Linked DNA regions of Homo sapiens: region 1 is linked to region 2. The links come from fine-mapping of genetic effects on gene expression. A gene starts in region 2. The other region holds a variant in brackets. All regions are shown on one strand. Distances are between the middles of the regions.

Region 1 (8,343 bases), 120 kb before region 2:
AGACATTTTATATCAGAAACAACTGAGATTGGTAGTGCTATTCATGTATCTGAAAAATATATAATTTTTTAAACTTGGTAAAATCCTACCCATATGACTTAGCTAGAAATAAATTTTAAATTAAAGTATCATTTATTCTAGAATGTATTTAAATAAAAACCACTTTATTACTTTTAATGTATTATGGAGATGGTCAATTTAAAGTCCACTGGGTCTACTTTTTGAATAGATTAAGCACACTTGAAATTAGCACTAATTATAATTAGCATTAATTGTAGCCCCAAATAAATATTCTAATTTTAATAATGTACTTCTTTTCAGAGGGTTCACAACATAAATTTTATAAATAATCCCTTTATCCATAAATTGCACTAAGGTAAAGTAAATTTCAATGTAGTTTAGGCAGATTAATTATGAATTAGGAATCAGTAGAATTTTTTATTAATATGATCTTAACATAGTTGAAAATAATTTTATTTGATATGTGAATACCATCACAATTGCCTCAGGCTCTCACATCTATCATCTCCATTGGTTTTACATAAAAGTACCTAGAGATTAGGTAATTTTCCCCTAGTTGTTCTGTGAGTTGGTTATAGATATAAGATTAGAATATAAAATATAGAATTAATAGTATAACGTATGACCCAGTTACTATAACATAATGAATTAACCTCTGTTTCCTAGAAGTTTTTATCTTTACATGTTGAGCTTAACCCCTCATACCCAGAAGTCAAATTTCTGGCAACATCTCTAATTCTTTTTGGAACAAAATGATTAAGGTAAATAAAATAAAATAAAATAAAAGGCCACCAAACATCCAAAATAGCTATGAAAACAAAGCTTCACTCCCCAGAAGGCCTTAAAATCTTCATGTAGAATTTATCTTTACCTGAACACAATTTTTAAAAGACATGGTTTTCCGTGGCACAGAATGAACAAGATGAAAAGTCAGAACTGATGGCAGGGATATTAAAGATATGAATAATAACTACATATAGTATGGAACCTTGTTAGAGGATCATACCAAAGGCTTAGTTTAGTACGGTAAATTAGATTGGTATTTGGCAAATAATCACTTTTCCCTAACCACCTCATGGAATAAGTATACTTCCCTGCTCTGCTGTTAGGCTTAGTGATTGACTTACTTTGACCAACGGAATGGAATCAGATGTGATTCCAGTTGACAGCTGAAGTGCGCTTGCACAGTTGGGCTAACACTCTTGTACTCCTACCACGACCATAGGAATAGCTTCGCTGGTTTGCTTCCTTCAGACTGGGCCCTCAAAATAAACATTTCTGGAACAGACCTAAGCTTAATCCACAGTGAGGACCTAAACCCAGACAGGCCTGCAGCATGAAGTAGAGTCATGCCGTCAGGCCTGGCCCAGAACATGCCCAGCCAATCTCTATCACAGAGAGTGAGAATGAATGAAAATTAGTTTAAGCCACTGAGTTGTGGAATTGATTTTTATGGAGCAACAGCTGACTGATGCAATCATAAAGAAAAAGTGAAAAGATGTTTAAATTGCTTCCGCTTAAAACCATTACATTTCAGTACAATTTATATCAGCAGCTACTAAAATATTTGAATGTTTAGTGTTTGAATTTCAGCTGACTAGAAAATTTCATTTATACAGAGAGCATCCCAAAGCCACTACTTAGCAGCATGATACATGGATCTTAGAAGTTGTGTGTCCAGCAAAAGGGAATGAGCATTTTCTTTAAATAAAGTCTGCTTAGCTTTGCTGAACAGTTCTACCAGACCCTCAGTTAATATACTTTCATCTGAGGTTTCATGCTGCTGACTAGCAATAAGAAACAGTCACATGATGCTTGGGCTGAGAAAATGTTTCAGTTCCCACAAATAGAGCAATGCAGGAAATTTCAAGACATGCATAATGAAAACGAAAGAAAATCCTTGTTTTCTTAGAAAATCTCCCTTCATGTTTGTACAGAGTGAAGTAACAGATATCCAGATTTAATGCCAAATCACAGTGACATGACTTGTTACCATTGTTATGCTACCATTACAAGGCACTTCCCGTGTGACCGGCTTTCTGCTGGGTGTTTTCACCATTATCACTTCAAGTTAACCACACAACTATTCCAAAAGGAAGGTATTATTACCATGTATGTGTACTTTAGAAAATGAAAAAACTAAAACATACAGAACATAAGTTACTTGGCCAAGTTGTATGGCTTGGAAGTGGTCAAGCAGGAATTTGGAGCGAGGGCTGTCTGACTTCAGAACAGTGCTCTTACTATATCCCATTCTATGAGAAAATTGTTCTAGTATATTCACTTCAACATCAGAAACTGCCACACAGATCATATCACAAAGCCATCTTCTAATCTTTTCTCCTCAAAATGAAGAGATTTAACATGGTAACATTTGGCAAAGAACTTCATAGCTTCCCCTCAGTCCCACAATATTTGCTTGAATCAAAGGGTCAGGATGCTCAAGAGAGCAATTTCAAATTATCTTTCATAAACCAGTAAACAAGATTAGAGATTTTAAATCCATAGCCCATCAAAAACTGATTTGGCTGTGTCAAAAAGAAACAGAGGTCAAAGTGACCTAAGATAGGGCAATTTAAGAGGAAAAAAATGCACTAGATTGAAAGACATCTAATATATAAAAACTCATGAGTTCATAATGATACTAATGAGAAAATTTCAATGATTCATTACTGCCGGTTGCCAGGGTACAAATTTATGATTCCAAAAAGTTATAAATAAGGAGAAAGTATCAAGCATTTATCTTACCTTTCCTGTAAAAAGTGTATTTCAAGGTAATCAAGTAGCAGATGGGTAGAAGTTCTTTATGGAAGAATTCACCCAATAAATGTACAAGAAATGACAGAATCACAATGAGAAAACTAAGATTTTCCTAATTCCTAAGATAAATAATGGATCTTGACAGTGATCATCAATGGATGCTAAATCCATCAGGGAAAGCTTGATAGAGAACTTTCAAATGGGATCGGGCTGACAGCATTTGAACTTGCTGATCTAGGTATCTTCAGCAGTGTCCCTGGAAGAGGCACAGGCAGACAACAAGTCTCTCTTGCAGAAAAAAAGACACAGCCCCAGCTATGAGACATTTTTGCCAAAAAAAGCAAATAAACAGACCAGAGTCTAATCAAGTCTCTGGAGCTAACAAGTACATCCTTGAAACATTGTAATATGGGCTGGCTGTATAGGATATTAATTCTTGAAATGATTACTCCTTATGTTACATGTCATGACAATTTGGTTAAAAAAATCCTCGGAAATGTATACTGGAGTATTTTGAGGTAATATAACACCATATTTAGGATTTGCTTAAATGTACTACAGGAAAAAGAAAGATCAGACATGGATAAGATTGGCAAAATGTGGATAATTTTTGAAGTTCAAAAAATACATGAATATATAGTACGTTATCTTTGTACACCTTTGTGTACAAATTTCCACAATAAATAAGGCAGAAAGGGAAATCCAGAAAAACTAGCTCACCACAGTT[C/A]ATGCCCATTTAAATATAGGGACCATAAGTCGTGCACCAGTTAACGTCTGTGTCTGTCTGTTCTCTCTTTCTTCTCTTTATTCTTTAGAATTATAGTTTCTATATTAAATAGCTAAGTTTGGGAAAGGTTTTGTTTTCTTAACAGGAGAGTCAATGAAACAGAAAACGTTTTAAAATCAGAACCGAGAGCACCAAAATTCATTAACTCAATAAATACTTATTAAGTACCTACCTTCTCCTTACTGTCAAAACTCAAAGCTGTGGCAATACAGCAGTGTATGAGACACAGGTTCCTCCTGTTAAAACAGTGGTTGCCAAAAATCTAGCAAATGTTGGTTTCCCATTAGGATCAGAAGTAAGGATGTGGTAACAGAGGCAATTTCCAAAATCAACTCGGGCATGTAAAATGTCAATAAAACCCAACTCTGAAGTCACATCTAACCGATTCTGACAGAGTTTTACGCTGAGCCAAGGCCATCCTGCCCAAGCACACTAAATGTTGACTCTGAAGCACATGTAGGGGAATTAAACAGTAACCAAGGATTGGAAGGGAATTTTGTCACAGTTTACACAGTCAGTAGCACCAGGATAGAAAAGCAAAGGCACCTAGGAGAATTGGAAAATTCTGTCACTACCAGCACCCCCACCACCCCTGAAAAAACAAATCAGAAAAAGACAGGATTTTAATGAATAACCTTGCATGCTGAACCCTGGGTAAGAAGGAAGAAAAGACAGAAAAACTGAGATAACCCTCAGGAGTCTCAGAGTTCTATATTTTGTGGTGCAGACAGGGCAGCTCACCAGGCTAGGGCTGTGGTGAGCTATTTCCTTTTTTAACATTCCAAGATGCCAATATAGATGATGTCCTTCTCCAGGTACCCATTTCTCTTTTCAACACCTGTAGTTCTTGATTAATTAATTCAATCAGGACAGACTTATGTATTAACTGTACACTTTCTTGACAACCCCTTCTGACACTCAGGTGCCTAATGTAGGCCATCTCTTCTTCAGCTGCTAGGTAATACATACCCCTGTTTTTATGGAATCAATATAACATAAGGATTCCCTGGCCAAACTTGAAAATTATCTTTAGATTTAGATTTGTTCTGTTTTGAAAGACACGTATGGAAATGCTTATTTGCACACAAATAGACATCCTCATAAAACTGCCCAAATTCACTGAAGACGCCTATATAAACATGATAGTCTTCAGATTCAATAATGACAAAGCAAAATATCCTGCAGCTCTGGAATGTACCCTTAAAGTATAAAGTGTCAAAAACAAATAATAAAATGTCTAGGAAAAAAATGAGAGATTTAAGCTTTGAATTTTTTCCTTGAAGAAAAGAAAAAAAGATATCGTTATCTAAAATACTATGTACCCTGAGACAAAACTGTCAGACAGCTTCATTTTGGGTTATCTCCTAAATAGAGTCTCACTTTTCCCTAAGCCTTTCTCTCCAGTCCCACTCAGAAATGGGTATCTAACTCCTGAGACCTAGACCATCATATTAACATTGTATTGGGACCATTTGTCAATTATGGGACAAAGGAGACACATCGTGAATGAAATACAGCCCTGTTTAGACATCTCTAACAGATCCATGGAGTGGCATGCAGGTGGGAGATTTGTAATTACTACTCCAACACAAGGTGTTAAAAAATATGATAGAAATAGTCAAAAATACAGTGGTGTCCCTAGCAAGAGGTACATACCCAACAGTGGTGAAGGGGAGTAGATTTTTAAATAAATAGGCTGGAAAGGCAGTAGACAAGCAGGAAACCAGTGGGATCGTGGGACAAGGTCCCGTATGAGACCTCGCATGCAGACAGGGAGCACAACTAGGTGAGTTTTCAGGCAAAAGCATAGAAGCATAAAATCACATCTTCAGGCAGGTCACACTGTTGGCTGGAGGATCAGTTTTAGAGTGAAGTTTTAATACATGGTCATTCTTCTTCAAGTTTAAACACTCAGTCCATGGCTAGATAAACCACCAGATAATAAACAGAATTACAAAGCCTTTTTAAATGTGTTCTTTTGGCAACTGAAATATCCCCTTTTAATTCTTTGAAAGGTTAGATGTTTATAGATAAAAAAATGTATCTCCTATATAATTAATGGATTTTCTTATCCTCTTTTGGAAAACATGTAAGACAATACTTATTTGCACACATATATACATACACATAGAAACACCCAAACTCCTAAGTGAAAATTTCTGTACATATCCAAGTCTTCATATTCAGTAGTGATAAAATCATGATTAAAGCAGCCAGTATGACCTCTTGTTTTTTTTCTATTAGTACTATGGGAAAGAGCACAGAGCTTAAACATGTGCTAAGTCACTTATTAGCTTTGAGTCCCCTTGGCAAGTTTCCACTCATTTAGTTTCCTATCGGGCAGGATTGTGTTAACTGGGGCAGGAGAGCCTTATGGTGAACATCAAACATTCTAGAGTTGCACTGCTGAGAATGTATCCTAGCTCTGCCACTTAGTTGCTCTGTGCCCTTAGGAAGGTTCCTTAACCCCTTTGTCCCTCAGTTTCCTCATCTATAAAATGGGGATAACACTAGTATCTACCACCTCATAGTGTGACTGAAAGGATTAATTAAGTAATGCATTTAAAGAGCTTACAGTAACAGCTGGCAGGCAGTAAGTGCTCAATACGTTGTCAATGCTTGTTTTTATATGTTGTCAACGTAAAAGACACACTGGATTTCGAAGACTTGGGTCCAAAAAAGAATATAAAATACCTAATTAATAATTGTTATGAAATGACAATATTTTAGATATACTGTGTTAAATATAATGTCAAAATTAATTTTGCCTATTTTTCCCTTTTTTTACTTGTTAAAGTTCTTTTTACTGTGGCTGTTATAAAATTTAAAATTATATGTGTGACTTGCATTTCATTTTTATTGGCCAGGGATGCTCCAGAAGGTTGATGCCTGAAACTAGAGATCCATTACCTTTCCTCCTTTCTAGGGCTTCAAATTAGGTTTTAATTTAAGAACACCTTTGCTATATATAATCAATACAAAAAACTTTACCCACTTATTGTACTTTGCCCTGTTGACACTGACCTCCCATTCTCCACCAGAAGAAATAATCAAACCCATCACCAACAAATCACCCATCCATTATTCAATTTTTATAAATATCTTAGTTACAGTTTTTCACTTAATGACCTTTCAAGGATATACAACTTAAAACCAATGACTTTAACTTATATCCAGAAGTCCTTCCAAAGGACATATGAATCAAATACTAAATTACGGTTTGGTGTTTGATATGGTTTGGATTTGTGTCCCTGCCCATATCTCATGTTGAACTGTAATCTCCTAGTGGGAGATGACTGGATCATGGGGATGGATTTCCTCCTTATTGTTCTGATGATAGTGAGTGAGTTCTCATGAGATCTGGTTGTTTAAAGGCATGTAGCACCTCCCCCTTCTCGCTCTTCCTCCTGCTCCAGCAATGTAAGTCGTGCCTGCTTCCCCTTCCGCCATGATGAAAGTTTCCTGAGGACTCCCCAGCCACACTTCCTGTACAGCCTGCAGAATCATGGGCCAATTAAACTTCTTTTTTTAAATAAATTACCCAGTTTCAGGTGTTTCTTTATAGCAGTGTGAGAATTGACTAATACAGTGTTAAATGCATTCATTGAACTAATCCAAATCTTGAAAGCTGGCATCAGTTTTTGCTAACTGAGATTTCCAAATCAAGGTTTATGGTGTCAACTGAAGAATCACAAAATATTCTTAAGACCCTCTTTCTGGAGATTCTAAGTTAGTCTTTCAAGGATAAGCCCCTGGAACTTCTATTTTAGCTTTTAGTCTCAAGGTAAAGATAGCATGAATCAATCACACAAATAAATGCATAATTATCATGGGTGATATGTGCTATAAAGGAAAATTATATGGTATCATTAGAGGTTCTAAAAAGATAAATAAATTATAAAATAAGATATCAAAATCTGAACTCTGTCAGCTAAATTGATTCTAATTATATTTTGAGATTGGGGGGAAGAAATTATGCATTTAGACATTCTGTACAATATAGAGTTATGGATTAAGATCCTGTAATAATTTTGAGATATAAACATATTTTCACAAGTAAAAACTATATGAAAGCTAAACAGAAAAAGTCAATTCACCTCTAACATTGCAAAAATATCTGTTTAGACAAACCATTCTTATCTATTTCTGAAATAATCTAGTCATCTGCATATGTAAGTAACCATATTTTATAACCTGGAAAAACAGGAGACTCTATGATCTTTTTAAAGTTGAAAACTACATTGCAGTAAGGGCAAATTGGTTAGGTTTTGAAAAGGTTAAATATACAAGCTCATTTTTGAAAGATTAGACAGATTATTTTTCATGGAAAGAAGCAAACAACATATTTTGATTCTATAAACTATATTCTGGGTAAGCTATAAACATAGTGCCTGGAGCAAAGAATCACAATAAACATGCACTGAATGGATGGGCAAACTGTGACCATTGAGACAGAATTTCAGAACTGGAGATCTTTTAATTTAACTCTTCATTTTATGGGTAAATCAATTGCAGTTCAGGGTAATAACGTTATTTGGCTCAAAGAGCTAGAAGTGGCAGGGGGAGCACCAGATTTTCTGTCTCCAGATTCCTAGGCAGGGACCCCCTGACTCTACCGGGCTCACATTCACCAAACACCTTAACCCTCAGGCACACCCACAAAGGTCTGTTTACGAATCATCAGTGGTGGCACAAACATTAGACTGAAGAGGTACTGTTCAAATAGAGCCCTCCAAGGTAAAGGAAGGTCTCTCATCTTTGTTATAAAATAAGGG
Region 2 (8,343 bases):
ATCCCAGTTACTCAGGAGGCTGAGGTGGGAGTATTGCTTGAGGCGATCAACCAGGAGCTTGAGGCTACAGGCTATAGTGCACTATGATGGCGCCTATGAATAGCCACTGCACTCCAGCCTGGGCAACAGAGCAAAACCCTGTCTCTAAATTAAAAAAAAAAAAATGAAAACTTAAAAAATATATTATTATTATTTGTCAAGGAAAATACATTTAAAAAACAAACAAAATGCTTCAGTCACTGCCCATGGAGCTCCTACTAGCCAGAGAGAATCAAACAAATTGAGAAAGAGAGGAACCAGCACCTCAGTTCTGGCAGCTTGCCAGGTAGCGTTTGCTTACCTCTGATCTTACTTAAAAACCAAGTGAGATATGTCACAACAAAAGTGTCTCTGTCATAGCAGTCTCAACACAATGAAGATGTTTTTCTAACCAAAGAACACAGTTAGTTGGAAGAGCTCTACAAAATTAGTACCAGGGAAGGCTTTAGTTAACACTTGCCCCAGACGCTGGGACCCAGAAAGGCTAAGTGATTTACCTAAGGTTACACAGCTGGCAGCAGTGTCTAGCCCAGAATCAAGAGCTAACTAGAATCTCCTAAGGTGAAATTGCCTATCACTGTGCCTCTTAACATGATTTCTAAAAGACAAGGTTCCCTGTTCCTCAGAACTATAACTTCATCACTATACCTTTTCCTAAAATCAGAACACTTATGACTGACTTTTCGTTGTTTTAATGAATTTAATCATTCATTAAATGGGACGGTGCCTATACATCAGTTACGAAAAAGAATTTCCATCTCCGATACATTTAATTACAGATATAAAATTTAACTAATTTTACCCATGTTTACAGTATGCTGCTTAAAATTTAATCATAAGTATATAAAAGCATAATTATCTCATACATAAATGAGGGTATATAAAAAGTACCTTTGCAGAAATATATAATTTATACTAAAACGTCACATATTCTGTTACAAAGACTGATTTATTTCAAAGAATGAAGAAACTAAATTACCACTACACTTGGTAACAAAGATCTGTGCCCATAAGATCTTTTCTTTAACATCTGTAAGAACTACATGAGAAAAACACAAACATTAACCAAGGTTAAAAGAAAAAACAAACAACTTGCAATATAAGCAGCTATAAACAGTGCCCTCCATGGTGAAAAATAAAGTCCACACATAAGTATCCTAGCAAAAATTTCACTACACACACACACACACACACACACACACACACACACACACGCCTAACAGATGGATTCTAAAAAACAGCTAAGCATTCCACAATCCAAATGCTCAAAAATTAATAATAAAGGTTAATTAACATTCTGGCACATGTGATATTGAGAACAACAGCAGTAATTTGGGGCAAAAGACCCTCTCTCTGCTCTCGTCCTTCATCTCATTCAACCTCTTTTTCTCAATTGTGAGCACACCCTTCTGCCTCCCCTACTCTGCAATCAAATCACAACCACCCAAAACCGAGGTGTCTGCTGCAGCCCAAAACATTTGACTGATAATATCCGGTTTGCCATTCCAGGAAATCCCAGAGTGGTTTTTAAGCCTCTGCCCACCGCTTGTAAAGAAAGGCAAGAGAGGAACTAATCGATACCAGCACCCCAGCTGTGACCTGGCACATGAAGAAATCAAGAAAATAAATCCCATCCATAATCTGTATAATTTAACACTTGGAAGAAAGCAACATCTGGGATCGACTCCAAGCAGGACAGTTTTGCCTGGATGGATCTGAGCTTCCTGCACTGAGTGTTAAAGCCGCTTAGGAGGCGATGCCCTCGGGTCCCTCACCAGTCCAGCAAAGGGACTATCTTTTTCCCTAGCAAGGGTTAATCTACCTCCCAAAAAAGAGAAGAGTGAGGAGAACGAAAATAACAACTACTAACATCTACTCCTTGCCAGTAAAGAGGCTGGCAAAGACTCCTCTGACACTTTGAAGGAGGGAAAGCTGGAAACCTTTCCCAAAGGTGGGTTCAGGTCAAACTATTGTCTTGGTAATTAGTCACAATCCAGAATGGAAGCTAACGTGAAATGTGGGAATGATTTTGTTGAATCCTACAGTCCTTTCAATGGACCCCAAAGTCCTATCCCCAGGCAAAGTTGGGAAAAAAAAAAACAAAAATCCCCTCGGACTACGACTCCCTGGGAAGGCTTTCCAGATGTTTTAAATTGCAGGAAAATGAATTTAGAACATAAGCAGATATCTACACATCACCTAAATCACTAGACCTGTCCTCAATTTTAAAACACACACACACACACACACACACACAAAGTACACCAGTCGGCAGAACAGGGCATTATAGGAAATAAAGAGTGTTAGTAAAATCCATAATGCTTTCTGTTAGACCTTCTGGGAGGTTATAATTGCATTTGGCCGGCTGCAGCCTTGTCGGAGAGCCTGGCTTCTTAATAGTCTCAACCCTAAAAGGAGTAACTGTCAAGGGGCGACCCAGCTGAAATCAAACAACAAAAACGGGAACTGTAACCCGCCTGAAATGGGAGGAGGAAAAGGAAGGGAGACTCCTGTATTCATCAGTCAACATTAATGTCCTTTGTTGTTCACCTTTACACAGAACAGCGAGAGCTATCCTGTTCCTTTTTCTCCGAACGCCAGTGTCAGGGTATGCTTTCCTAAAAGCTATCTCCCTGCCCCCAAGAACCAGGCTTTCCGATCCCCCTCCCCATTTATCACTCAGCAGCCCTGTACCGCCACACCGCCCCCACTGCGCTCACCCGGGGTCGAGAGGGTGGCCAGAAGTAAAAACACTGCTGAAATACCCGTTCTTCTCCAAAGACCAAAGAACCGAGCGGCGCAGATGTTGAAATTTACCAATGCCCCCGCCCCGCAACATACACACCCCATAAATCCGGGATCGCAGAGAGGGAGGAGGGTCAGAGAGGGCTCAGCTTGTCAGAGCGGCTCTCTCCAGGACCCTGCCACATTCCACACTCCGGGAATGTCGATCCGAGCCAGAGGGAAGGGTTTGCGCCTCCCTACTGTTTTGGGGGTGTTCTCTCTGCCCGAGTGTTGTTGTCTCCCTCTCCACCCAGAGGAACCGTTGCAGCTCCCTGTCGCTTTGGGGAAGAAGGGTAAGGAAGGAGAGAAACCCCATTCGCCTCCTCTTCCAACTTGACACACACACACACACACACACACACGCCCAGTCGCCACTCCAAACTCCGCAGGCAGAGCCCGAAGCTAGCGGGCCGGCCGCGCGCTCCCCCAAGCTGTCCCGGCGCTTCGGGAACCAGTGCGGGGCGCGCCGAGCAGGCGGTGCGGGGCGAGAGCCTGGTGCGCAGCCCTCTGCCTGGAGCTGGCTCGGCAAAGCCCCGTACCAGCTGCGCGATGCCAGGATTAGGCATTTTCAACCGGGCGGAGCGAGAGGGGCGCGGGGGCAAGGACGAGAAATGCGCACTCGCTCGGGCCAGAGCAGAATAAAAGTTCGCCCCGCGGAGACTCACCCACGCCGTATTTCTCGTGCTCCGTAGGTATCCACATGGCTAAAGGGGCTCCGGGGTCTTCAGGCTTTGTAATCCCCGCGCCCCTTCTCCGGCTCACAACAATGCACAGTCCCCGAGCAGCGCTGCAGTGCCGGAGCCCAGCGGCTTCGCGCGGGCTGCGGGCGCTGGGCAGGATCTGCGCTGGAGGCTCCCGAGCCCAGCGTTGACACTGCGCCGCCCGCAGCTCTCCCGGCGGCGGCTGCTCACAGTCCTCCGACGCGCTCCCGGGTACCCGGCGGCGCAGTCATTGTTCTGATTCACTGAACTAAGCGAACACGCCGGGGCACTCTCCGGCGCACCCCCGCCCGCCAGCGCCTAGTCCAGCCCTCCCGTCCCAGGGCCCCGCAGCACGCTGGGAATTGTAGTTCTTGGCCTCCCCATCCCGGAAGTGGGCGCGGCAAATGTGGTTCGGGGCGGGGATTCAGTTTTACTGATTGCGTCCTATTGGTCCAGAGCGCGGCGTAGGTGTGGAGAAAACATTACGTCGACGGGGAGTTCGCCTCCAGTAGCGTTTCTACTGGTGCCACCCCGCCTCCGACCCGCCCTGCGGCCCTCCCTTTTCTTTTCTGCCGGGTAATGGCTGCTTCCAAGACCCAGGGGGCTGTCGCCCGAATGCAGGAAGACCGTGATGGGAGCTGCAGCACAGTCGGGGGTGTAGGTTATGGGGGTGAGTACGGTGCCCCGGAGGCGCGGCTGATGTGTCTTCCTTTCTCTATGACCGGGTGTGCAACGGACCTCTGGTCTGACCCTAGGAGCCCTTCAGCTCTGGGGCCACCTGGGTTCGACTGGGCCCCACGGGTGGTGGCCCAGCGGGATGGGTTGGAGCCGGTGGCGGCTACTTGGTTGGGGCTGCCCGGGGATGGCGGAGAAAATGCCATGGGATGGCGGAGAAAATGCCATGGAATGGCCTTCCCCTCCGCCGGGGAAGCTCCCTGAGCGTTTGTCTTCTGGTTTGGAGCTCCCAGCTTTGAGCTAGCTGCTGAGTGGGTTTGGTTCAGATCTGGTTCGCGCGCGTGTGTTTATAATTTTGGGATTAGCAGCTCTTTCTCCTCACCAGTACACTGCCTTGGTTTGCTTGGTTTGACCTCGCAGGTGTGTTTTATTTAGCTTCCGGAGTATTTCCAGTCGCAGACTGGTGGTCACTGCTCTCCACTCTACAGATTTGCCCAGTTTGTGGCTGAGGTGACCTCTGAAGGGAAAGTGTGTGTATCTCACAACCTCCCTGTAGATGGTTAACTGCTCTGGGTGTTCTTCAGATTTGTATGTGGAGCCTGAGAGATCTTCCCAGTCTCTGGGTCCTTAGAGAAAGAAAAGGAAAGTGATAGATAATTTGCACTCGTGGCTTCAAAGAACATTTGAAAAGAGTTTTGAAAACCATCACAACTTTGGCTGTACCTGACTTTCAGGTTGTCCTCTGATCCACTGTAGGAATAAAAAACCAAATTTTGAAAGCTGCAGGTGGATTGTGTTTAGGACTCTTTTACCTTTAGTCTATCCCTCCCCCATTCCCCCCACCCCATTTTTGTCTTGATGTGTAATTTAGCACAAGTTGTCTTTTTCTGATGAACATGGTTTGGGGCTTAAATATAGTTCTCAGACTGTTGCGACTTTGTTTTTCGATTTATTTGTTTTTGCTTTCACAGTTAAATTGATATCATCTTAAGTATTTACCTCAGCGGCACAGAGTTGAAGTGCAGTTTTTTCCCACTTCCCAACAGTGGAACTCCCTACTCTGAAATTATTTTAGTACCTCTACCAAACAAATCTTTGGTAGTCTCCTGAGTTAAATATTGAATTTAACACCCTAATGGTTTATTTTTGGGTTGGTTATATATTGGGCTATCTGATGGTAACAGACTATTACGGTTTCCTAGATTTTCAAAGTTCCAGAGGGCTACCAGTTTAAGATCTAAACTGGTGAATTTATCTCACAGTCTAACTTATTTTAAAAAATGGCCGGGCACGGTGGCTCACCCCTGTAATACCAGCACTTTGGGAGGCCGAGGCGAGTGGATCACAAGGTCAGGAGTTCGAGACCAGCCTGGCCAATATGGTGAAACCCCGTCTCTACTAAAAATACAAAAATTAGCCGGGCGTGGTGGCGGATGCCTGTAGTCCCAGCTACTCGGGAGGCCGAGGCAGGAGAATCCCTTGAGCCCGGGAGGCGGAGGTTGTGGTGAGCCATGATCCACCACTGCACTCCAGCCTGGGAGGCAGAGCAAGACTCTGTATCAAAAACAAAACAAAAAAAAAGGATATGCCTTTCAAAAATGTAAAATATTTAAAAATATTTATTTTTAAATTTTACAAGTTTAAAAGTTTTTAAAAGCACTTCAAACCATTCAGAAGTGTATGAAGTAAAAAAAATGAAAATTCCCTCACCTCACAGCACCACTCCCCGAGTATTAAGTGATAAGAGTTTGGTACATATTCTTTCCAACATATTCTTCTTCTTCTTTTTTTTTTTTTAATCCTACAATCCGTATTCTGTTAAACCACCATATTCTTATATGACACACGTCTGTATGATTTGATTTTTTTTTTTTTTTTTTTTTTTTGAGACGGAGTCTCGCTTTGTCAACCAGGCTGGAGTGCAGTGGCGCGATCTCGGCTCACTGCAAGCTCCGCCTCCCAGGTTCACGCCATTCTCCTGCCTCAGCCTCCCGAGTAACTGGGACTACAGGCGCCAGCCAACAAGCCCGGCTAGTTTTTTGTATTTTTAGTAGAGACGGGGTTTCACCGTGTTAGCCAGGAGGTCTCGATCTGCTGACCTCGTGATCCGCCCGTCTCGGCCTCCCAAAGTGCTGGGATTACAGGCGTAAGCCACCGCGCCCGGCCTATGATTTGATTTTTATAATAAAAAGGGATAAATCTATATAAACTGAAAGATCTGCAACCTTCTTTTTTCTTTCAGCAGTCTATCATAGAAACCCTTCCACGTCAGTACATTTGTTTCCTTTTTTTTTAAGGACTGTGCCCATCATATTCCAAAATATGATTGTGCCATTCTTTATCCATTCCCTTATAAATGAACATATAGTGTGACTTTAGTTTTTCAGTAATGTTGCAATGAACAACTTTATGTACATATATTCTTGCCCACTGGTTGTATATTTTGGGAGAAAATTGCTGGATCAAAGGTTATGCAAGTTTAAAATTTTGACAGATGCCAGACTTTCCTCTTAAAATATATTCAGCATACATTGCCACCTGTAGTATATGAGTGTTCTTTCCCCCATATTGTCACAAACTTTGAGGAAATAATCCAGGACCAATGTTTCAATGACTAGTAGATTGAATTAAGTAACTGATAGAAAGCTTAGTTTTTGATTCCAGTTTGTTTTCAATAAAAGTGTTGAGTAGTAGTGAATTTGCGGTATCTATAACATAAAAAAATTTCTCACCCTCGGTGAGAAATACCCAGTATTCTCATTGACTTGTAGCAGTCAACAGGAGAAATTAATGGTTGATTTTTTATGTCATTTTTATAAGATAAAGTTGTCATTAAAAATTCTGCTTAATAACCTATGTATCATTCTGTTACTTTTTCCAAAATCTTTTCAAAGCCAACAAGGTGTGATATAAATTTTAGGTGTAAATATTTATATTAAAAGTATATTTTTTGTTAGGCAGTCATTTAGGTTATCAAGTATGTCTTTCCCTGTAAAAATCATACACCTTTTTGGATGAGTTCATGTCCTTTGTAGGGACATGGATGAAGCTGAAAACCATCATTGTGAGCAAACTATCGCAAGGACAGAAAACCAAACACCACATGTTCTCACTTATAGGTGGAAATTGAACAATGAGAACACTTGGACACAGGGCAGGGAACATCACATACCCGGGCCTGTCGTGGGGTTGGGGGATGGGGAAGGGATAGCATTAGGAGAAATACCTAATGTAAATGACGAGTTAATGGGTGCAGCAAACCAATATGGCACATGTATACATATGCAACAAACCTCCAAGTTGTGCACATGTACCCTGGAACTTAAAGTATAATAAAAATAAAATTTTTAAAAAACATACACCTTTTTGACTTCTTGAAAACTGCTTCTTTTAAGAGATTTTCTTCTTGCTCTGATTAAAATGTTAGTCTGTGTGTTTAATACCCTGGGACAGTGAGGCCTAGGAAGACTTTTTATAGAAATCCTTGCAATTCCTCAAAATCTCTGCTAGAGTGAGTCAGTGGGTGGGGTGCAGGCAGGTGCAACACTCACTGAGACCACTGTGTTGCCAGACTTCTGTGGCTCCATCCTTCTCCAAGAAAGTCCCCACATTGAGGTCAAGGATTTTTTTGCTTTTTTTGTTTTTGTTTTTTGTTTTTTTTTTTTGTTTTTTTTTTTGAGACAGAGTCCTGCTCTGTAACCCAAGCTGGAGTGGAGTGGCACGATCTCAGCTCACTGCAACCTCCGCCTCCCGGGTTCAAGTGATTCTCCTGCCACAGCCTCCCGAGTAGCTGGGATTACAGGCGTGTGCCACCATGCCCAGCTAATTTTTATATTTTTAGTAGAGACAGAGTTTCGCCATCTAGGCCAGGCTGGTCTCAAACTCCTGACCACAGGTGATCCACCCTCCTCGGCCTCCCAAAGTGCTGGGATTACAGGCGTGAGCTACTGCACCTGGCACACTAGGTCAAGGGTTAAAGGACACTGCTTTACATACATCTGAACAGTAACCAGAATTTCAATTTGTCTCCTAAAATTAAGAACAGATAATAAATAGATTCAGCATCCCTCACGTGGTGTCATTGGCATTTGTTCTTTTGCTGTTTTTAAAAATCAGCAAGGTAGCACAATTCAGTAATAATACA

The links.
Region 1: its variant is fine-mapped to the expression of DOCK4 in whole blood (TOPMed, PIP 0.98).

The regions. Positions count from the first base shown.
Region 1 is chr7:112,082,774-112,091,116 of GRCh38, forward strand. The region is part of intron 1 of DOCK4 (dedicator of cytokinesis 4); the gene reads right to left. Among named protein-coding and RNA genes, the nearest start is that of DOCK4, 120 kb to the right of the region's middle. RefSeq lists an enhancer at 1,716-1,815. The variant C/A (reference allele first, on the strand shown) is at 3,509.
Region 2 is chr7:112,202,614-112,210,956 of GRCh38, forward strand. DOCK4 (dedicator of cytokinesis 4) reads right to left here and starts at 3,786. Exons shown (of 53, transcript NM_001363540.2): 1 at 3,489-3,786. The coding sequence starts at 3,525. It overlaps ZNF277 (zinc finger protein 277), which reads left to right and starts at 4,082. Exons shown (of 12, transcript NM_021994.3): 1 at 4,082-4,194. The coding sequence starts at 4,104. RefSeq lists a silencer at 3,658-4,007 and an enhancer at 4,178-4,297.